2 linked regions of the Homo sapiens genome follow. The protein of the gene in region 2 interacts with the protein of the main gene of each other region in a pairwise test. Each region holds a gene or a part of one and is shown on either strand. Other genes may lie near its edges. The genes, in order: ASB15 and CCDC13.

What was found.
Region 1: the proteins of CCDC13 (region 2) and ASB15 interact in binary tests that used the Homo sapiens proteins (3 or more experiments, as listed by UniProt).

Annotation. Positions count from the first base shown.
Region 1 is NC_000007.14:123,624,037-123,635,558, reverse strand, and holds part of ASB15 (ankyrin repeat and SOCS box protein 15), read right to left. Parts: intron 10,991-11,522; coding exon 10,745-10,990; intron 10,664-10,744; exon of another isoform or gene 10,602-10,663; intron 8,450-10,601; coding exon 8,278-8,449; intron 6,696-8,277; coding exon 6,125-6,695; intron 5,594-6,124; coding exon 5,440-5,593; intron 1-5,439.
Region 2 is NC_000003.12:42,740,171-42,751,692, forward strand, and holds part of CCDC13 (coiled-coil domain-containing protein 13), read right to left. Parts: intron 10,346-11,522; exon of another isoform or gene 9,648-10,345; intron 7,204-9,647; coding exon 7,087-7,203; intron 5,858-7,086; coding exon 5,753-5,857; intron 4,989-5,752; exon of another isoform or gene 4,773-4,988; intron 2,897-4,772; exon of another isoform or gene 2,888-2,896; coding exon 2,726-2,887; intron 918-2,725; exon of another isoform or gene 805-917; intron 1-804. UniProt on the Homo sapiens protein: Required for primary cilia formation and promotes the localization of the ciliopathy protein BBS4 to both centriolar satellites and cilia.

The sequences.
Region 1 (11,522 bases), on a different chromosome or scaffold from region 2:
AGTCTATTCTTTCTATGACAGGAAGTATAATGGTATTGTAGAGTCTGTGTTTTCAAGTAAGACAAACAAGGGTTCAAATCTTCACTTTGTTATTTTCTATGTCTATTACTATGAGAAATTAACTTATCTAAGCCTCACCATTTTTCTCTGTCTTGCAATCTCCAAGCTAAAAAAGAGACGGTTTTAAGCTTTTTATTGCAAAATAAAATAAAGAAAGTACACATGTATAGTTTCATAAGTTATGTAAGTAATTATTAGTCGAACATCTATAATCACCTCCTAGGTCTATAGGAAATAGAACTTTGCCGGAGACCAAAGAAATTCTTCTACAATCCATTCTTCTTTATTTCTTTCTCCTACCATAAATAACTACTATTCTGAATGGTAATCACTTTCTTTAGAGTTTCATCATCTAAGTGCACTATCCCTGCACTATAGTATTGACAGTACATTTTTAAAATTTTTGCTATGTCCTTTAAGTCTTTTCTAATCTGCAGGTTATTCTCTCCATCCCCTTTTTGTCTTTTCAACTAATCTTTGAAGAACCCAAATGCCCTTTAGTTTCCCACAGCCTGAACTTTGCTGATTGCATTTCCATGGTGCAGTTCCATGTCCCACTGTCTCCTCTACTTCTTGCAAATTGATAACTGGATACAGAGACTTGATCAGGCTCGGGTTTGATCTCTTTGGCAAAACTATATCAGGTTCTGTGTTCATTCTTTGGGGGCTACATATTAGCAGCTGTTGATGCTCATTGACTACATCCATTAATTTATCGGAGGCTATATAATGGTGATAACTAATTATATCTTTTTAAATTATTTAGAATACTTTTATAAAGGAATGCTTTTACTTATCTACTCTTTAGTTACTAATGGCACAGTTTATACATATACATATATGTAAAGCAGAATAAATGCTTAAGTCTTTCTTTTATCAGTTTTTAAGATAATGAGTTGATTTTCTATCATATTCTGGAGCTGACCAGTTTTTTTTAAAAATTGTATATTTAATAAAACATCCTATTGTAAAGATACATGCACACGTATATTCATTGCAGCCCTATTTGCAATAGCAAAGACATGGAATCAACCTAAATGCCCATCAAGGATAGACTGGATAAAGAAAGTTTGATACATATACACCATGGAATACTGTGCAGCTATAAAAAGGAATGAGATCATGTCCTTTGCAGGGACATGGATGGATTTGGAAACCATTATCCTCAGCAAACTAATGCAGGAACAGAAAACCAAACACTGCATGTTCTCACTTATAAGTGGGAGCTGAATGATGAGAACACACAGACACATGGAGGGGAACAGCACATACTGGGTGGGGCCTGTCGGGGGGGTGGCTGGGGGAGTCTGAGCATCAGGAAGAATAGCTAATGGATGCTGGACTTAATACCTAGGTGATGGGATGATCTGTGCAGCAAACCACCATGATAAATGTTTACCTGTGTAACAAACCTGCACATTCTGCACATGTACACTTAAACTTAAAATACAAGTTGAAGGAAAAAAAACAGAAAAAAACCCACCAATCGTATATTTAAATAGATTGGCTTCAATTCATTGAAATCATTACCCTTTTTGAAACTTAAATTGTCCCATCTTTGGCCAGTTGGAGCCTCTTCAAGTTAGCCCCTGAATTCTTTTGTCATGAATCATGTAGTCTTTCAGAGTTTCTTTGCTTTCTGGTATGACCAGATGTTCCAGGTTCATCTTATTCATTTCCTTCCCCAGATACAATCATCCATTTCTCAAAAACAAAACAAAACAACCTCCAGCAAAAACCCTGGTTTCTTTTGTTAGGAAATGGCATTTCCAGGCCAAAATCTGGGTCGTAGGAATGCTCATTGCTACTGGGTTCATCATTATTTCTAAGACTTATCTGTAAACAGACGCACGTGCGCGCGCGTGCACACACACACACACACACTCAGCATAATCCACATGCACACAGATGCTTTCAAGATAAAATAGCTTATGAGTTTATATTGTTATTTCTAATTCAAATTCAGGACTACAGGATTTCTCTTTAATCTCTTCTCTATTACATCTGTATTTTCTTTCTGCCACACTGACAATCCTTGGTTTCAAGGATACAAAGAGTAATGGAATTGGAATATTCCTTAATTACTCATTTACTGAATATATCTCTCATCCTCAGCATAACAATATTAATATTATATCACTATCAATATTTTAAGATATTTAAAAATATGTATTCTAATTATTAAATATTATTTATTTTATCTATGTACTAATATTCAAAAATAAATAATTGTGCTGTATCTATTTTATCAGAGCATATAACCATTATGTATTGCATCTTCTCCCTTTTAACTCTCACTTAGTCTTGGCATTCTGTTTAGTGTTAGCCTTGTTTAATACTAGTCCTCATGGTGATATCTCGCTAATCATTTTGGGTTGTCTAAAGGCCATTTCTTAGTGGATCCTTTGGACGTCAGCAAGAGGAACAATATTTCCTGAGTTCTTGCATGCTGACAACAGTTTGCCTACATTGATCATTGGAAGTCAATTTTGCTGTGTAAGCATCCTTGCCTCACATTTTCCTTCCAAGGAGAGTCTTAAATATGTTACTCCATTGTCTTTTGGCATAAAGTATTGTTGATGAAAAGTTTAATAATAATCTATTTTTTTCTCTTATAAGTCACTTGTTCTTTTTGCCTATGTGCCCAAAGGATATAGTATTTTATATATTATAGTTTCAAATCTTTCTTTTTTATTACAAGTTTTTCTTGAAACTTAGTTTTTTGTATTTCTTATGTTCCCTTGATTTGGTTTTCCTTTTCAAGGAATCCTATTATCCATATATTGACTATTCATTGTCTGTCATCAATGTTTTTAGCTGTCTTTCAAATCCTTTTATCTAAGCTACAGGGATGCAAAGGCATAAGAATGATACAATGGACTTTGAGGACTCAGGGGGAAGGGTGGGTCAGGGATAAAAGAGTACACATTGGGTACAGTGTACACTGCTTAGGTGATGGGTGCACCAAAATCTCAGAAATCACCGCCAAACAACTTATCCATATAACCAACACGACCCGTTCCCCCAAAACCTATTGAAATAAACAAATATACATATTTTAAAATCCTTTTATCTATTTCTTCGTTTATATTTGATTTACAATTTTTCTTCCATATCCTCTTTTATATCTCTCAATGTATTGTCAACTGTGTTGCTAGTTCTTGTTTTCATTCTAGTTCAGTCTTCACATTTGACATTAATTTTTTCTAATTTTTATTCCTAAATCTTTCCTCAGTTGTTACCTGATTTCTGAATTTTTCAAATTTTGACTCGTATTGTTCTTTCATATCTGATATTATTTTCCTCATGCTTTTTAGCTCATTTTTGAAATAGAAGGTTTGCATTTTTTAAGTTATGTATTCATTGCCCGTGGGGATATTATTCTGTTCTTCTTTCTATTATTATTATTATTATTATTTTTGAGATGGAGTCTCGCTCTGTCGCCCAGGCTGGAGTGCAGTGGGGCGATCTCGGCTCACTGCAAGCTCCGCCTCCCGGGTTCACGCCATTCTCCTGCCTCAGCCTCCTGAGTAGCTGGGATTACAGGCGCCCGCCAGCACGCCCGGCTAATTTTTTGTATTTTTAGTAGAGACGGGGTTTCACCTTGTTAGCCAGGGTGGTCTCGATCTCCTGACCTCGTGATCCGTTCGCCTCGGCCTCCCAAAGTGCTGAGATTACAGGTGTGAGCCACCGCGCCCTCTCTGTTGCTCATTTTTATTTGCATTTAGTTTTCTTGACTTTTTAGAAGGATGCTTGGTTCCAGATAGCTCTTCTAACTTTGCAGAGCTTCTTACTCTATTATTTTCTTGCAATGACTCAAAATATGGTGGTTAGATCTCTGAGGTTTCCTGGCTCTGTTTGCCACCCCAACTTTTTTGTGGGTCCTTTCTTGTTTCTGTCCTGCTCGATTTTTGATTTTACTCTCAATGCGGGCTTAAGTCCAGGAAGGGAACTTAGAGAAGTGGTTTTCAAGAATGCATAGGGTCTAGACTGTTTTGTAATTTCCCTTAGGCTTAGCTTTTTATTTGTAAAAAATAAGCATGATAATACTTTACAATATTTCATAGCACACTGTACATATACATTTCAGATACCTCACATAAACTTACCATGTAGTAAAAACATAAAAATGTTAATACTTTAGTTTTAAAACTAAATAAATTTATTAAGTAATTTAAGTATTCTAGACACTACCACCTTATATGCATTATTTCTTTAGATTCCCACAACAACTTTATGAGGTTAATACTATCTTACATCTACTTTGCAATGGGAAAACCTAGGCATAAGAAGAATAAGTAACTTGCTCAAAGTCACACAACTAGGATGGCTATCTTGGTCTTTTTATAGGAAATAAAAAAATCCTCCTCCACTTAGAGAAGCAAAAATGGTAACAATAAATTGTTGCTTTTTATCATGAAAACATCAGTCCTGAATTACATATGCATTTTATAATCTAGCAATCCTACTCCTAGGCAAGGCCAGAATTTCATTTCATTCTAGGTCTATCTGACCCCAGAGCTCAATTTCTGGGCTAACAATACTATATTACTCATCAGATTCTCCAAGACTCCTGTTTTAGTTGCTGCAAAGTCTCTTCTATTATAGAACTAATTCCAGGGGAAGGCTGATTCAGGTACATTAAAAATGTCAAATTATTTAAATGTCATATAAAATTCTATAATGCTTCTTTAGGCTTCATGAAATTGATGTCCAACTAGGTTTTGAAAGTTTATTTTTCCAAACTTATATTTTGAAAGTGAAAGCATCTCAAATCTATGATATTTTTCTGGTTTTTATTTGTATTTGCATTATTTAAAAATGTACTTTCATTGAAACTTGTATTATTCATTTTCATGGTAAACTTTCACCTAGAAAAGACAAAATGGCCTGTCTACAAATACTAACCTTTGATGGTAGGACTTTGTCAATAAAGACCCCAGAGAAAGCATGTCAAAAAGAGTAATTCTAATCCCTGCTGTTCATTCATTTACTCCATATTTATTGAAATGTACTACTTACTAGGCACTATGCTAAGCCTTGCAAATATAACAAGAAACAAAGTAGATCTCTACCCACATGGAGCTTGCAGTCTACGTATTGTATGATATTATAGAAGTTAATTTTTAAAATGAATTGTAATCAGAACGTTAATATAGCTGTAGTATTACTCATTATACAATTACAAAGCTGGAAAATATAAAGAAAAATGAAAATATGTATCTTACAACAGAGGAAGTGTTAAGGATGATTTTAAAACCCAGATAATTCTGGAAATACAGTAGAGTAGCATAGGAAAAGTATCAAAGAAGACATTAAGAAATTTCCCCCATATAAGTTCTTAATTTAAAAATTGTAGGCAAAACTTTTGGTTTTTACCTAGTATTTGGCGGATTTCTGGCCATTCTCTCTGTACTTCTAGTGCAGACTTCAGTTTAGCACACAGAGGAACATAATCCATGTAATCTATTAGTACACGAGTAACTCTGCCTACCAAGTGCTTCATCCAAGGAACTGTAATAAACTCACAGAACTGAGAGAATTGATAAAATTTAATTTAGTAGTATTTTTAATATCATATACATAAACACTCAATTGTGTTATGGAAAAATTACTCTGTTTTACTACAGAAAATAAAAGATCTCTCCTTGTAATGAACAAAAATTAAAAATAAATTGTTTGCTTCTCTCTGTGAAACCATCAGCCCTGAAGACTCGCCTGGCTCTGATGTGATTGTAGTCAGCAAAGCATGGAGAAGTCATGCTTCTTCCCATCTGGCCCCAATATTCTACCAAACAGGCAGAAGTGACTAATTACATACATTTTCACATTCTTCTACATTCAGTTTTCAAGTCAAGAAAAAACAAACAACATATTTTTGGGGGAGAGGTTGGGGGGCTAGATTTATGCTTATATCCCTGTATCATTGCATACAAAAATTGAAAAAACAAGAAAAATAGAAAAATTAGAGTTTATTTTTCTTTTCTTGTAACATCCCTAATTGAATGAACATGTATTAAATTAGGATGATAACTCAATATAAAGCAGAAAAGGCATAACTCACCGGGTTATCTTTTATTACACAAGATGTCCATCCTGGCAGCACCTCTTCCTGTATCTCTGACCACACAAATGAATTTCCAAAGATGTCACCATGCATGCAGTCAAAGCACATCTCCACTTGATAGCCATTATTCAGCAATAGCCTCAGCATTACCTCGTCGTTTAGAGCATATTGAATGACACTGGGGAAACGAGTGTCATTCACATGCATAAAATAACAATTGACATTAGCTCCATGGGAGAGAAGCAGCCTGACAATTTCATAATTATTGGCCCTCACTGCAACAAGTAGACAGTTGAGGGGATCTAAGTTTGGGTCTGCACCTGCAGCCAGAAGGACTTCTGTGCAATGAACGTCATTATTAGAAACGCCAAAATACAGCGCAGTCTTCCTCTCATCGTCATAGCTCTGGGAAATGTGGTCAGCAAGTAGAGTGTTGACATCAAAACCATTTTCAATGAGCAGTTCTAGACACTGTGCATTTTGTCCATCTGCTGCTGAGTGAATTGGTGTTAGCCCACTTTTCCGAATTGCATTTTTAGATGTTACTGGGATAAGATATTTCAGTGCACTAAAAGAAAAAAGTCAAATATCTACTTGCCATAAAGAAAATCAAGAAATTAAATAAACTACCGTTCTCACTAGATAAGTGAATGCAAGTTGTATAGTTTCCCTTATTTTCTCTAGATAACTTTATACTGAAACATTTAACCTTTGTCTGCCGAGGTACAACTATTTAGTTTAGTGTAATGTAGCTCAGTTTTGATTTAGCTTTTTGTTCTAAATATTCCTGGGAAACTGCATCTTATATGTTTTTTCCTAGAATTGTAGTTCCTCAAGAACACGCCCCATCTTCCAATTCTCCTCTGAACAATATAATATTTACAGGCAACCAATACTATTTTTAAAAATGTAGAAGAAAAGTAAGCCTTTCTAATGCCACAGAGGAATGCTTCATAATCTTGACCATTAGGATCATGGGGTGATAGGAAGTGACCCTGGATGTCATTCAGTCCAACTGCTTCATTTAACAGAAGAACAATCTGAAGTCTAGAGAGGCAAAAAGATTGTCCAAGGTCACACAGTTAGACGCAGAGCAGGACAAGAATTTGGGCCTTTTCCAATTCTCATGAATTATTCCTCTTTCACTGATTCCTACACAATCTATTTTTTAATATTGACCATGAACACTCTGTCTGCTTCCATATAACTTGCAATTGAATTATTAGCCAAAAGAAGAGTCTTTAGTATTCCATCAACCTTGCATCAGTCCAATTGAGATAACCAGCCACAGTTTATGTTTCTAAGTACATGTGATATAGTTGTGAGTTTCACACTTGACTAACCAGCCAGACATGTATGAGAGTCACAGGCAAGGAGAACCTGATCTCTTGTGTCTACTGTTGTGAATTTATGAACACTGGGAGTAAATCCAGGTAAACTCTAACAACATGTCACTTAGCATCAATTATGCGTCACTGGCCACTTAGCCAATGGCCCACTGAAAACTATAAAGCCCGATTACTTCAAAGTTTTTGAGCTTATGAAATATATTTAATTGCCTAAAACCATCTTCTCATGGTGGGTAGTTTAATATAGGGATCTAGACTTCTACCAATGTGTTAATTATGTACATTTTGTGATTTAAGAATCTATTCAACCGTTCGTATGGAATAAAAAATTATAAACTTATAATGAAACTTTTCTATTCAACAATACATTTGACATTATACTATAATATCCTGGAGATGTTAGGAAATAACTGGAATAACACTGATAGTATTGCTACAAATTTTAATCCTTTGTCAAGGGCAAAATTTTTAGAAACTGTAGCCTTTTGTTAAATACATTTGTAAACAGAAAGGCACTCTTGAGTGGCTTGTGCAGAATTCTCACTTATGCCTTAATTCCTTCTAAAAGAAAATTTCTTTTCATTATAAAAGTACTATAAATTCATTTTTTGGAAGTACAAGAATATCAAAAGGAGGAAAATTAAATAAGTTCTAAATATCTAAATTTGGAGCATCAAAACCTGAAGATTATGCCTATTTCTCCTTGGATTTTGAAAGGTATTACATATAGACTTGTGATTATACTGTATATACAAATTAGCATTTTTAACTCAAATAATTACCCTATAATTTATCACTCACAGATAATGCCCCTCATAGGCAGCTCGGTGTATAGGAAGATGTCCTGCTCGGTTAGGTACATTTCCGCTTCCTCCATATTCCAGCAGGAGGGAAATGCAGTCGGGATTGCCACCTCCTGCTGCCTCAAACAGCACCGACGCCCCATCATCCGCCAAAGCAAGCACATCACCACCTGGCAGTATAAAACGTGGCATAATGATAACTGGATGGTATTGTTTAAACAATCCCCTTAAAAACAGCCTGTTGTGGGGCTGGGCATGGTGGCTCACACCTGTAATCCCAGCACTGGAGGCTGAGGCGGGCGGATCATGAGGTCAGGAGTTCGAGATCAGCCTGGCTAACATGGTGAAACCCTGTCTCAACTAAAAATACAAAAATTAGCTGGGCACGGTGGCGTGCACCTGTAGTCCCAGCTACCCAGGAGTCTGAAGCAGGAGAATCATTTGAACCTGGGAGGTGGAGGTTGTGATGAGCCGAGATCACTCCACTGCACTCCAGAATGGGCAACAGAGTGAGACTCCATCTCAAAAACAAAGAAACAAACAAACAAAAAACCCCCACAAAACCTGTTGTGTTCCTTTCTGGTTAGTACTTAAAAAGTATAGAATTAAGGGCCTCCATGTTTTCTATACTTTCAATAAACAGTCATGCATGCAGCATGGTTTGTTTTATTAAAATCTTTGGGCCAAAAATCATGAGAGAAACTAAGTCAATTTTCATGACAGGCAAATTCTTCTGAAAAAGGCTCATTAGACTTTTTAATTTAAAGACAGTAGTTTCTTATTTTATTTATTTATTTATTTATTTATGTTGACAGAATCTCACTCTGTCGACCAGGCTGGAGTGCGGTGGTGTGATCTCAGCTCACTGCAGCCTCCGCCTCCTGGGTTTAAGCAGTTCTTCTGCCTCAGTCTCCTGAGTAGCTGGGATTGCAGGCATGTGCCACCACAGGGTTTCGCCATGTTGGCCAGGCTGGTCTTGAACTCTAGGCCTTAAGTAATCTACCCACCTTGGCCTTCCAAAATGCTGGGATTACAGGCATGAGCCATGGTGCCCGGCCCCCTCTATTTTAACTTAACAAATACTTACAGTTAATAAAGTATTAACAAATACTTTATTGCCCTCTATGTGCAATCAGTGTGTGTGACCCTAAGAAGAATAAGTGTGACTACTCTAAGGAGCTTAGAGGGGAAATGAAACAAAATATCAGACAGCACAAACTGTATGATATTCCAGTGACACTGACATTAAGACAAGGAGACATGATGTAGGGGACTGTGGCTCTGCTGCTTATGGTGAGAGCTGGGGGCAAGCCGTTTACTTCCGTGCACCTCCATCTCCACATCTGTGAATGATTAATACAGCTTACTTCACAGGGCTTATTTGAAAATTAAACGTGGTTGTATTGGGACACCTCAAAAATGTTAGTCTTTTTCCTACAGGGAATCACTGGGGATCATGCGGTTCTAGAGGTCATTTGCAGATGAGGACGCTGAGGACCAGATATTTAAGGAATAAGGCTAGGGTCTCACAGTGAGTAGTGGCTCAACCAGTTTAGGAGTCAGGTCTCCTTAACTCATGGTTCTGTAGTTGTATAAAACACCTGGAGGGTTTAAGAAAGGGCAGTGTCACAATCTGTTGGAAAGAATTAGGAAAGGATTTAGGGAGGAGGTGTCTCAAGAGATTGACTTTGAATTGTGCTGAAGAGATAAAGGCAAGGACCTGACCCAAACCCTGCAAGGTACGTTTGGGAATACTGCTAGTATATTTTGACTGGAGTGTAGGATACAAGATGGGAGCAGTGAGGGATAAACGTGGTAAAACAATTTGAGATGATGCAATAGGGATTGTTTTTTGGATAGTTGACACTATTGTAGCTGCCCTATAGGGAGAGGAGCCAAGTTGCAGTATGTACTGTGATTCTCTGATGGGAGACTAGAAACCCAGAAAATGGTTAGAAACTATTTGCACTGGTCCAGGGAGAATTGAGGGACCTGATCAGGATGGCAGATGGATTGCAATGAGAGGACAAGAGAAACGCTACAAGAATTTGCAACTGATTGGATTTAGGAAAGCAGGTGATGGAGGAATTAGAGATAAATACGATCTTTCAATCCTGTTGAGAGAAATTATTACATTAGAAGAGTAGAAAAACAGGAGGAATTCAGTTAAGGAGAAGATGAGCATGAGGCCCTGATGGGCCATCTATGTGCAGATTGAACTGTCTCTCGAGAGAGCAATCAGGACTGGGCTTGTAAATTCGTAGGTCACAATGTATAGGGCTTAGCTGAGTTGTAGAATAAGGGTCTACTGAGGGACCAGGTGGGAAAACCTGATGCCAAGTTCCATTCAGCAGAGGAAGAGGAGCTCCCCTAGTTACATTCAGGTGAGGAAGAGTGATGAATGGAGAAAAGGAGAGTTCGAGAGGCAGGACAAAAGTCAGGAAGTGTAACTCCTTTTCACATACCTTTGTGGATTAGATGTTCTAACACGTCACAGTGACCATACTCGGCAGCGACGCCTAGTGGTGTGACTCCAAATCCATCTCTCAGGTGGACATTGCCTCCATGTTTCAGCAGCAGAGCTACGATATCTTTTCGGCCTTGCTTGGCTGCTTCATGCATTGCTGACCATCGCTTGACACAGGGCTGGTCTAGGCTAGTGTTATGTTTGATCAGAGTCGACACCATGTCATAGGAGCCCTTTTTCACAGCTTGAAAATGATTGTTAAAAACAACAGTAAGTATATTAACACAAATACCTTAGGTGGTATTAAACTAATTACTAAATTTAATATTGAAATAGATACTAGCTAGTAACTTTTTTTCTACAAGGAAAATAATGTATTTCTCATATCCCTTCTGTTTCTCATACCCAAGTTTATATTTGTGAAATATAAGTTTACAAGATGACACTACCTTTTCTTTAAGACCTGGAGGAGGGGTAAGAGTTTCACAGAAAATAACACGTATCACTAGGATAGGATGCTGTGTGCCCTCTTTCCAAATTTTAATTTCTTCACCAACAAAATGGAAATAACACTTGTTGTTGGGTTGTACAAATTAAATAATGTATGTAAAATTCTCAGTGTAGTACCTAGTACATAACAGGAGCTCAGTAACTGGCTATTATTATTATATCACTCCTAGGACCCAGGAACCTCATATGTAAATCATGTTCATCAGGTTTCCCCTATAGAAACAGGGTTTTTTCCCCTTGCCGCAAAAGATAGCAGCAAGTATTGA
Region 2 (11,522 bases):
GAAAAGAGAAAAGCCATACTTTAGAAAAAGAGTGCTGGGCTAGGTTCCAACTGCAGCACCTTGCACCACCAGGAGCTAGAATGAGAAAGGAGGGTCTTTTCTCCCACTTCCTCCATGATTATTTGGCACAACCCCTGACAGCACCTTGCTTTGTCAGCTACCAACTGGAAACTCACATGCAGCACACATCTTCGGAGTCTCTCATTCAATCATCCCTTCATTCTCGAGGGTTTCCTGAGGGCCTACTATGGGTTTCCTGAGGTTTCCTACTATGGTTTCCTGAGGGCCTACTATGGGCTTAGTATTGTTATAGATGCTGGGGGACAGCAAAAAGCAAAACAGTCCTTGTCCTCAAGGAGCTGATAATCCTAATGGAGGAGACAGATAATGTCAAATAGTGACAAATGCTAATTTGAAAGTAGGAAACAGGAATAGCGAGAAGGATATGGTCAGGTAAGGCCTTTCTGAAAAGGTGGCATCTGAGCAGAGACTGAAGGAGATGAAGGGAAGAGCAAAGGCCCTGGGGTAGAAGGTGTGTGGCTGGAGCACAGTGAGTGAAGGGGCAGAGGTTAGATTAGGCAAACCCATAAAGACAAGATGGAGACATTGGGGAGGAGCTTGGGCAGTGGGTGACATCACCTGCTTGATCCTGAGGGTGAATTGTTGCTGGAAAAGTATTTTCATATCCTTGATGAAGTGAATTATAGAAATGCAAAACAAGTAAAACATGAATCTATAGGACACAAGCCCTTTGCAGGGAGGCAGCCATTACTCACCTGTTGCTCTCCTGCCTACACACTCCAGGCTCTTATGGGTGCCTGCCAGAGGGAATGCATGCAGGAAGCTGTTTCCTTCCACCCGCTATTGCAGCTTATGGTCAGCCCAACTGTTCAACATAATCTGTTCTGCACTAACATGTAAGTTCAAGCTAGGTGCATTTCAAACCCAGCATTTCCAAATCTCAACTCCCTTTCTCTTCTTGAACCCACCCTGTCTCCCTTACCCACCCACTATACTCCCTAGAAGTCCTTTATAACTCTTCCTCCTCATCTCTCTTCCAAGTCCAATCAGTCCTTGAGCCCTAGAAAGTCTGTCCTCACTGTCCCAGGTGTCTGGCCCTTCCATGACAGTCCACTATCTTGGCAAAGATCTTTGGTCATGTCTCCAGGATTACTATTCTGCCTTCCATTCCTCTTCCAACCCATTCCTCCTCTTGCTCCAACCATGTGACCTTTCCAAAATGCACAGCTGACCACCTCCCTCCACAAATTAAAACCCTGTCGTGGGCTCGGCGAATGGCTCACACCTGTAATCCCAGCACTTTGTGAGGCCGAGGCAGGTGGATCACCTGACGTTAGGAATTTGAGACCAGCCTGACCAACACAGTGAAACCCTGTCTCTACTAAATATATAAAAATTAGCCGGGCATGGTGGCAGGTGCCTGTAATCCCAGCTACTTGGGAGGCTGAGGCAGGAGAATCACTTGAACCCCGGAGGCGGAGGTTGCAGTAAGCCAAGATCACACCATTGCACTCCAGCCTGGGCAACAGAGCGAGACTCTATCTAAAAAAAAACAAAAACCGTTTGGTGGTTCTCCACAGCCTTCAAGATACAGGCCAAAAGTCCTGGCTGGCATACAAAGCCCAGCAGGCCCTGTCCACTTCTGTGGTCTCACTGTTTCCCTCCTCACAGCTGATGGTCTACAGCGCTGGGAGGTGCAATGTGGTCATGGTTACAGCATTCCTAACACAGGGCCTAACCCAGCGTTGGTGCTCACAGGCAAAAGTCTCCAGATGAAAAGGCAAGTCCTCACTGTTAGGTAGCTCACTGCCAGGGCCACTACGTGGGCCTGTTGTATGGCCTGCCTGCACCTCTTCATGCTGCTTCTGTTACCTTCTTTAAAGTGGCCCCTACTCCCTACTCTCATTGCAAGTTTGGGGAGGCTAACTCATCCCCTCAAACCTTGGGGCAGGTGTCTGAAGCTTGACCAATCAAAACACCCTGTACTCTTGGCTACAGTGATGGGCTCAAGGATGGTCACATAACCCAGGCTAGACCAAAGACACTCAATTCTGGGACTTTGTTGGAACTATTGGGAAAGAGAAACCCTTTGTCTGTAGAGGCTGCATTGGAGGAGAGAAGCTGGGACTACCCAGGGTCCTTGTGGAAGAGAGTGAAGCCAACCCAGGAGAAGGTGCTGAGAGCAAGGCCCCGATCTGCACCTGAAGCTAGGCCACCTCTGGATTGTTCGTTTACATGGGCCAATGACTTCCCTTTGTTGCTTAAACCTGGTAGAGTTAGAGTTCTGACACTCCCAACGCAGCCAGTGAGATGCGGCCCCTGGTGTTGAGTCCAGCCTGCCTACCTCTTTCATCAGCCTGGAACTTTCCCCCTTTAAGCCCCATCTAACCCTATCATACTTCTGGGGCCATGACCCTCCCCCTCTCCCTTTTACAATGAGAATTTCAGGTATAGCACCTCCAAAACAGCCAGGATGGGGCCACGAAAAGTTCATTAAATGGGCTCACAGTGAGGTCCCAGTCAGGCAGCTCAAGTTGGTTTGACAGGACATGAGGAACATGCAGAGGTGACCCAGGTCCCCAGGTGTCTCCTGCCTAGAAGGGGTGGCTCAGACTTCTGACCACATGTGCCTCAGAGCCCTTGCAGGCACCATCATGATCTCTCGTTCCCACATGCCCAGCTGACCTCCTCAGGCACGCGTTACCTCCAAGCCTTCCTGTTTTTCCCTTTCCAGGCTGCGGATCCTCAGCAGGTTTTTCTCCTGTGCCGACAGCTTCCTTGGGTCTGGATAGACAGACAACTCATCACTGGCTGTTCCCGCAGACTGGCTCCGGGCCTGGCCCAATTGCTTCTCAAGCTCTTGAACCTGAGGATGGTAAAACTCGTCGTTCCACAATGGGTCTTCTGCCAGCCTCTTCTACTCAGAAGTGTGATAGGAGACCCCACAGACTGAAGATGGAACCACCTCTCTAGATGGCTGTGGTAGCCCCATCTGAGGAGGACTAGGGGTGGGGGACAATCTGAGCTGGCATCTTGAGCAACACATTGGAAGACACCAGGAAAGTTCAGCTTAGAAAAATGGTGAATGAGAAAAATCACCCTATCTCTGAGGGGCTGTTTGAGGCTGGAAAGCAGACCTATGGCCCCAGGAACCAGGGATGGATAGGATGGCAGGTCTCAGTTCAAGAAAGAATATTTATTTATTTATTTATTTATTTATTTATTTATTTATTTATTTATTTTAGAGACAGGGTCTTGCTCTGTTGCCCCGACTGGAGTGCAGTGGTGCAATCATGGCTCACTGTAACCTCTGCCTCCCGGGCTCAAGCAATCCTCCCAGCTCAGCCTCCTAAGCAGCTGGGACCACAGGCACAGGCAACTGTGCCTGGATAATTTTATATATATATATACACACACACATATATATATACACATATACACACACACACATAAATATATAAATATAAATATATATATATATAAAATTTGGTAGAGACGGGGTTTCACCATGTTGCCCAGGCTGGTCTTGAACTTGAACTCCTGGGCTCGAGAGATCTGCCCACCTCAGCCTCCCAAAGTGCTGGGCAAGGAGGAACTTTCTAACAGACAGACCACCTAAGACTGGGTGGGCTTCTCGGAAGATGGCAGTCACTTACAGGAGATACTGAAGAGGGGAAGGCAGGGTTTGGAAACAGACTGCCTCAAAGCCTCACAGATTGTGTGACTGCGCACAGGTAACTCTCTGAATCTCAGTTCCCTCATCTGTAAGATGGGCCTAAGAGTAACACTGCCCTGCGTAACACTGTTATGAGGATTCAGTATTGTGAAGTTGTCTGAGCCTGGGAATCCTCTGAGGTTCTTCTTGGACTGAAATCTTGGTGCTTACTCCAGATCAACAAACTACAGTTCTAGCGGAAGGGACATGGAATCTGCATTTTAAATGCTACAGGTTATTTTTAGGATTAGGTAACTTTGCAAAATCCCAAGATGGTCTAGGTGAAGCTGTCAACACAGCCTGGCACATGTGGGCCTTCAGCAAGTGGCAGGTAGATGTCATCCCACAGAACAATGCCCTTATCACCCTTATAACGCTAGGGTAGAAGCAGACAACTCCTAGGGTCCTTCTGACCCTGGTTTCCCTATCAACACAACCAAATGACAAAACAATGTTGGTAAACTTGAGCCAGGAAAGGAAGCACAATTCGCTAGGCTCCCTGGCAAAGGGCAGGAGCACAGCTTTGAAGGCACCCACCAGTGCCCTCGTGTGGCGCTGTGAGGCAATTCCATTTAATCATTAAAGAATACTGTTACCTTTAAGAATTTGACATACAGGGCCGGGCGTGGTGGCTCATGCCTGTAATCCCAGCACTTTGGCAAGCCGAGGTGGGCGGATCACGAGGTCAGGAGATCGAGACCATCCTGGCTAACACAGTGAAACCTCGTCTCTACTAAAAATACAAAAAATTAGCCGGGCGTGGTGGCGGGCAAATGTAGTCTCAGCTACTCAGGAGGCTGAGGCAGGAGAATGGCGTGAACCCGGGAGGCGGAGCTTGCAGTGAGCCGAGATCGCACCACTGCACTCCAGCCTGGGTGATAGAGCGAGACTCCGTCTCAAAAAAAAAAAAAAAAAAAAAAAAAGAATTTGACATGTAACTTAATGACAATAAGAAGTAAGTTGTTTTGTGCTTATTATGGTCAGGCACTGTCCTAGGTGCTTTACAAATGTTATTTTATGTTACCCCATTTCACAGGTGTGAAGATGAAGACATAGGAAGATGAAGGGGTTTGCCCAAGGTCAGAGTTGGCAGACCGGTGGCCAAACGTAAACTCAGGTCTCTTGAACCCCAAGGCCATGCACTATCATCTATTAGCTTCTTGGAGTTTTTCCCCCTTTATATTGGCTTCAAGGATCCCATGGGAGACACTGAAGATAAAAGCCACTGTGACCCTCGAAGTCCCTGGGAACAAGGGTGATATGCTTGGCAAATGGTGGAAGTCATACACCTTCTCACATGTTTCTCAGTTTGAAGGGACAAAGGGAAAAGAACCACACCTAACTTTTATACAGTGCTTCCTCCATGCCAGGCCCTGTGCTGAGCATTTTACAAGTATTGACTCAATTCTCCCAACAATCCTGTGGGGTAGGCATCGTTATTATCCCCATTATACAGATGAGGAAACTGAGGCACAGAGCTAAAGGAACTTGCTTAAGGTCACACAGCTGGTGAGTGGAGAGCTGGGATTTGAATCTGAGCAGTGTGGCTCCAGAGCCCCTGCTGTTAGCTGCTTTTGGTATGCTCCAAAATATTCAGACAATAAAGAGGGAGACAAGGCTAAATTTTTATTGGGTAATTAAACTTTCAAAAGACTACAAGCATCTGGACAAAACTGGAAAAAGCTTACAATTACAACAGTCACGCAAATCTACATAAACTAAGAAAAAAAAAAGATGCCTGGAGTAAAATAAATCAAACCAAAGGCGTTGGCATTTGTTAAGCTCCAGTGCCTGGCATGTGCTAAGTGTTATATAAGAGCTTGTTCATTAAATAACAAATTAAAATCAGGCTGGTTGGCGAGAAGGTAAAACAACAACCCCGCACGAGTGCACTGTGAGACCTAAAGGCCTTTTTTGGGTACTGTGTGCTTAGGTCTCTAAGGGGGTCAGGGCAGCTCTTTCTGGGGTGTTTTAAATCCTTTGTTCAGGCCAGGAGAAGTCTGATGACTCACTCACCTTGCTCTGCAAAACAAGAATTTGTTGAGCCCGACCCCTCCAGGTCCCTGGCGAAGATAGGAGCTGCTGAACGTTGATGTCTTCCCCAACCTCTCTGGCCAAAACCTGAAATAAGGCAGGGCCTTCAATGTGGCCAAAAGAGAGGGCTCCACCAGACCCTGATGCTGCTACGTATTTAGAAGCATATTCAGAAGCAGTCTTCACCTACACGATCTTCTTCCCATCTCAGAGCATAGCCCTCAAAGGTCAGTTTTCCATGTCCCAAGGGCAGCTCTCCCTGGGAAAGTAGTAAACCCATCATCCCTGGCATTTCTTGGCAATGCTTAGAGCAGCCAAGAAACTGCCAGCAATGCCCAGATAGGGCCCCTTGCTCTTGACATATTCTGGGATGACTGAACCACAAAGCTGACCAACTCCTGCTTCCTTAACCCACTCACCTGTCACCTAGTGCTGAGCTAATTCTGGCTATAGGAAGTACATCACCACAGGACCCTAGCCTTTGTGAAAACCCACGGACAAGTGGACCTCTGAGTGCAGCAAAAGGTGGGCTACTGAATGTCAGTTGGGGTGCTGTGGTCCAAGAAGGACCCAGCTTTGCGGTTGTTGAAGTGCAGCACTCAGGCCCAACCTCAAGGCTTTGAGGCAGAAACAATACGCTCCAGCTTGTGACCTGGGCCCCTCTGAAGCCTGTCACAGAAACCCGATCCAGCGTACCAAGTCTCTGGCACTTGTTTCCACAATAGAACACTGTTTTGGAAATCTTGGCCAGTCTGAGTGGTTCCAGCAGGGAAGACAAATGCCAGAGAATTCGCTATGTAAATAAAAATAAATAACGAACCAGCTGGGCCTGTGTCCCAAGTCTGAGCATTTTCCTTTGAAAGGGTCCTTTAATACACAAGTAACCTATTCATTTTCTGTTACAGATAGCAGAGAAGAAGGCAGGTGTTGGCAGGCTTTCAAGTTAAGTAAGGGTGACATTAAGGGGAGACCCAGGATCTACTGGGGCACAAGTAGTGCAGGGAAGGCTTAATGGACTCTCCCTGGGTGGACAGTGCTGTCCTCCTCAGTCTAGAGCTGGGCAGGCACCACAAGGGCAGGTATGCTGCGGGGGTGGGGGTGGCAGGCTCAGGTAGCCAGCGACTCTGCCCACCAAATGGTTATGGACCAAGGGCTGGTGGGAGGAAGGACTGGAACTGGAGCCTGACCCAGAGCAAGCAGTGTGCTCAAGGGACTGAGCACTCATGGCTCCAGAAAGGAATCCACTGTGCCAGCCGTGCTCTTCCCAAGTCCAGCCCCAGCCACACAAGAAGCCCCAAGCCCTGGCTCTGAAAGACCTTCTGTGCCATCCGCAGCTCCTGCTTCACAGACTGGATCTGGTTTCGGAGGTCACTCATCTTCAAGTTGGTGGCCACCAGCCTGTCCTGCAGGGCCTTCACCTCTGGGGTCTCCAGCTGGTTGGGAAGGACAGGAGAGAAAGTAGTCATTTATTGCCTACATGGGAATAGTAATCATAGCCCCCATTTATCCAAGTCTGTGCCAGGCACTGTGCTAAGTGTTTGACATGGAAGAACTCATTTAATCCTCATAAACCCCTGTGAGGTAGGTTCTCTTGTAAGCCCCTTATAGATGCAAAATGGAGGGTGGTGGAAGGTAAGTCCTCTACTTGAGCTACCTGGTTAATAAAGGTGGAACCTGGATTTGAATCCTGGCAGCTTAACTTTGGGACTGAGCTTTTTGCAGAGTGTTGCACACACACATGTGGGTGTATGCCTTACCCTAGAGGTGAAGCATCTGGAGGAAGCGGCAGGCTCCACGCCTCCCAGACACTTCCTGGGTGTGGACCCACTGCTGTGCTCAGAGACTGGCATCACAGCTAATCCATCTTCACTCAGAATAAAGAGGAAACCACGTTATTCCCCGAAGGCAAGCCCAGCGTGGCAGGAGAGCCATGGCATCCTAATTCAGGATCTGCCTCTCCCAGAATCGTCAGCTTGGGCCTTGGTCTTTTGACAGCTGAGGGGCCTTGGGCTCTCTTTCCTAGCAGTGACCACTGAATAGAAATAAGGACCCATTTTAATTTCCAAATGCTCATCTCTGTGGCTTGAAGAACTACAGCAACCATGAAAACTGCCTGCTGAAACTCTTAGCAATGTCTTTTTTTTTTTTAACCCAATGTTTTATTTAAACTATCTGGATGGAAATTTTTCTTAAATGGGCTGACTACTTCTCTGTCTTCAATAGACACTCCTGTGACTCATAGATATTTGACAAAGGGACCTTCAAGGTCAGCCCATTTAAACCCCTTCCATAATGATGAAAATAAGGCCCAGAGAGGGGAGGTAATTTGCCTTCAGGCATACAGCTGGTTGGGGTGACACAGGTGGGATGAGAAAGAATACTTGTCCTTCCCCTGCCCTGGCTGACTCTTCCAATTTAAGCTGCTGTTAATGCTGGGCATTGTGGCCACAGGAACGTTGGTTGTCAGGCTGAGCATCCCATCAGGCAATGACGCTGAGGCCCTCTGCTGCTGCCCCAACAGGGCAAAGCAGCTGAACTTCAGGAAGCAGGGCTGGTACTACAGTGGCTTTCTGACCTTTCTCTAGCAGGCACAAACAAAATCTCCTCTGAATGCTAGTGTGAAAGACAGATCCAAGTATACTGGGTCCGGGAAGTTCCATGGACCCCAGAGGCTCTGGGCAGCCCAGCTGAAAACCACTGGCCAAAGAAACTAGACATGAACACCTGGTCCAGAAACTCTGGCCTCATCCAGTGTCCTCATCTATGGAATGAGTATACAAATACTTTCCTGCTCCGCTTCCTCAGAGCACCACCATCAGGCTAAAGAGAACAGCCAACGTGAACAGAATGTGCCAACTCGGAACTTATATGAAACATAATCTCAGCTCACTGCAACCTCCGCCCCCCCGGGTTGAAGCGATTCTCCTGCCTCAGCCTCCCGAGTAGCTGGGATTACAGGTGCCCACCACCATGCCTGGCTAATTTTTGTATATTTTTTAGTAGAGATGGGGTTTCACCATGTTAGCCAGGCTGGTCTTGAACTCCAGACCTCAGGTGATCCACCTGCCTTGGCCTCCCAAAGTGCTGGGATTACAGATGTGAGCCACCGTGCCCGGCCATCCTTTTTTTTAAAGTATATTTTCTTCTGTGTTCTTCCTCCTGTCTGGCCGCCTGCCATCCCTGCATACTCTGTTGGGTGCCTGCCTCTTCTCCTGTTGAATGTGTGGCTTTGAATCTGCCCTGGGTTGGGAAGCAACACCCCTCCACCCCCTGCCACGCCCCGCCCTGCCTGTCAGATCTCTAGCGCCATGAGCCCCAGTGGCCCTGACAGTGGGGGTGCTGAGAGCTGTGGGAGTACATGTGCTTCCATATGGCTGCAGTGACCCTGCAGCATCTCTTTGATCTGCTCAGAGCATGGAAAAAGCATACAGATTGGATCTGGCTCTAGAACCTGGGCAGTGATGCCCTGTCCAAGCCTCATTTTCTCATCTGTAAAATGGGGATATGTAATGCCAATCTCCAGGGAACCTGAGAGGGTTGCTAGGACAACGCATGTCAAGGGTGCTGTCTGGGGCAGGTCCTGATGGAGGGCAATGCTGGCAGGCCTAGCCTGGCTTGAGTGGGCAGCTGACAAGTGGGCTGAGGGCTAGATGGTGTTCTGGAGAGGGCTGGATCAGGCCCCGTCCTCCTAGCTTAGGCAGTTGAGCTAATCCTACCTCTAAGCCATTTCAGAGTTCTTTCTTCCCAGAGTGAAATTCCACAGGCTTTGTGGGGGACCTGGGTATGGGTACGCTCCCTCCCCTACCCGAGGCTGTTTTCTTTGAGAAAATAACTAAAGCGCAGTACATGGGGAGCAGATGATGCCAACGCTACTCACATCACGGCCTCCTGAAGCCCCAAGCAGAGGGAAGGGTGTTCAGCTCCACTCTGGAATGTGCTTTGGAGGCCTAGGGTTGGAATGTGGATTGAGCCTGCAGGCCTCTGGAGTGTGGCTCGGGCTTGGGCCGCCCTGAGCAGCCTATGAGGGGAAACATTGCTTTTGCTCTCGCTCTGATCAGGAGATGCCAGGGAGAACACGTGGTGCTGATGAATTGAGACCTGCGGCCCATCACACACTCTTCTCTCAGAACCTGGAACCTCCCAGGCTCCCTGTGGCCACAGAATAAAGTCAAAACTCCTGCTCCAGCTGCCATTCAAGGGCTCCCTCTATGGGTGACTTCACCCCAGCTTTTTTGGCTTTCGTTCCCCTTTTCTCCCGTGTGAGCTCTGGGCTGCAGTCAAATGTTATCCAGCTGACACTCAGTTCACCTTCCCCATCTTCCTTCTCCAGTAAGGCCAGCTCAGGGACGCCCTCCTCCGTCCCACCTTCCAGCTGCAACCTTAATGGAGGGTGGACTCCCCTGTGAGCTTAGAGCACCGGGGCCATCTCTGAAGGCCCTGTCCACATCCTGCCTTCGAATGACTTCTCATTCCTCCTCTGGGATTCTCCATAGACAGAGCCTCTGTTTTTTTGGTGGTTGTTGTAGTTGTTTGTTTGTTTGTTTTGAGACACAGTCTCACTCTGTCACCCAGGCTGGAGTGCAGTGGCGCTATCTCAGCTCACTGCAACCTCTGCCTCCCAGGTTCAAGCGATTCTCATGCCTCAGCCTCCTGAGTAGCTGGGATTACAGGCGTTCGCCACCATGCCTGGCTAATTGTTGTATTTTTACTAGAGATGGTGTTTCACCATGTTGGCCAGGCTGGTCTCGAACTCCTGGCCTCAAGTGATCCATCAGCCTCAGCCTCCCAAAGTGCTGGGATTACGGGCATGAGCCACCTCACCCGGTCAAGGCTCTATTTTTGATTCTCTGTGCCACAGGGCTTAGAAAATCCCATCAGGCTGAACAAGCAGTTTCCTATCCAGGGCAGCCCTAGTTCGGAATGTGGAGGTGCTCAATGCGTGGAATAAACCAGGGGCAGCTTAGCAGTGTCCCCTGAAGCCAGGAAAGGCCCTGAAGAATACTCAGCCCCTGTAGAGGGCAGAGCCCCTCTTCTACTTCCCCAGCAATGAGACAGGTTTACACAAGACTACTCTTGAGGAGGCACATTCACCTCGGAACCTGAGGGCCCATCCCCGCCGGAACCTGAGGGGCCCATCACTGCACAGCGAGGACTGAATTATCCTCAAGGAAGGCACAGGGCAGTCTGATCCTGAGGTGCAGGCAGCAGGGAAGATGGGGCTAGAAAACAAGCACCAAATTGGGAGTCCCGGGGCTTGGCTGCCTCTCTCACCAACTGGCCTGGCTTCCCAAGAAAACCCTTGGTGAAGCCTCCTGGAATGTTAGACTCTGATGATATTTACTATCTGATTTGGGGATAAACCAACCCACTAGGTCAGACTGACTTCCTTTCATGGAGCTGCAATTCCCACCTCTTGAGTTTCATGAACTGTCACTGGTTTAGTAAAATGGGCTCTGGGGAATAAGTCCCCATTTCCAATAGCCACTTTTACTCTGTAGATTTGGAGCCCCACGAAAGGGAAAGTGTTCATAATATGAACTGCCCCATAAAGAACAGGATTCCACTGGGCAGTAGTGAGCTCCCTGTCCCTGGAGTAAGGTGGAGTCTGGATGTGTCCCCAGTGAGGATGCTGTACAGGAGATGGCTGGGCTGACAGTGGGAGGTCAGTTGGACCAGGCCTTCCCTCTTGATCCTCAGGCTCTAGTGTTCCAGGGTTCTCAGGCTCCTCCCAGCCTTCCTTTCTGGAGACAGA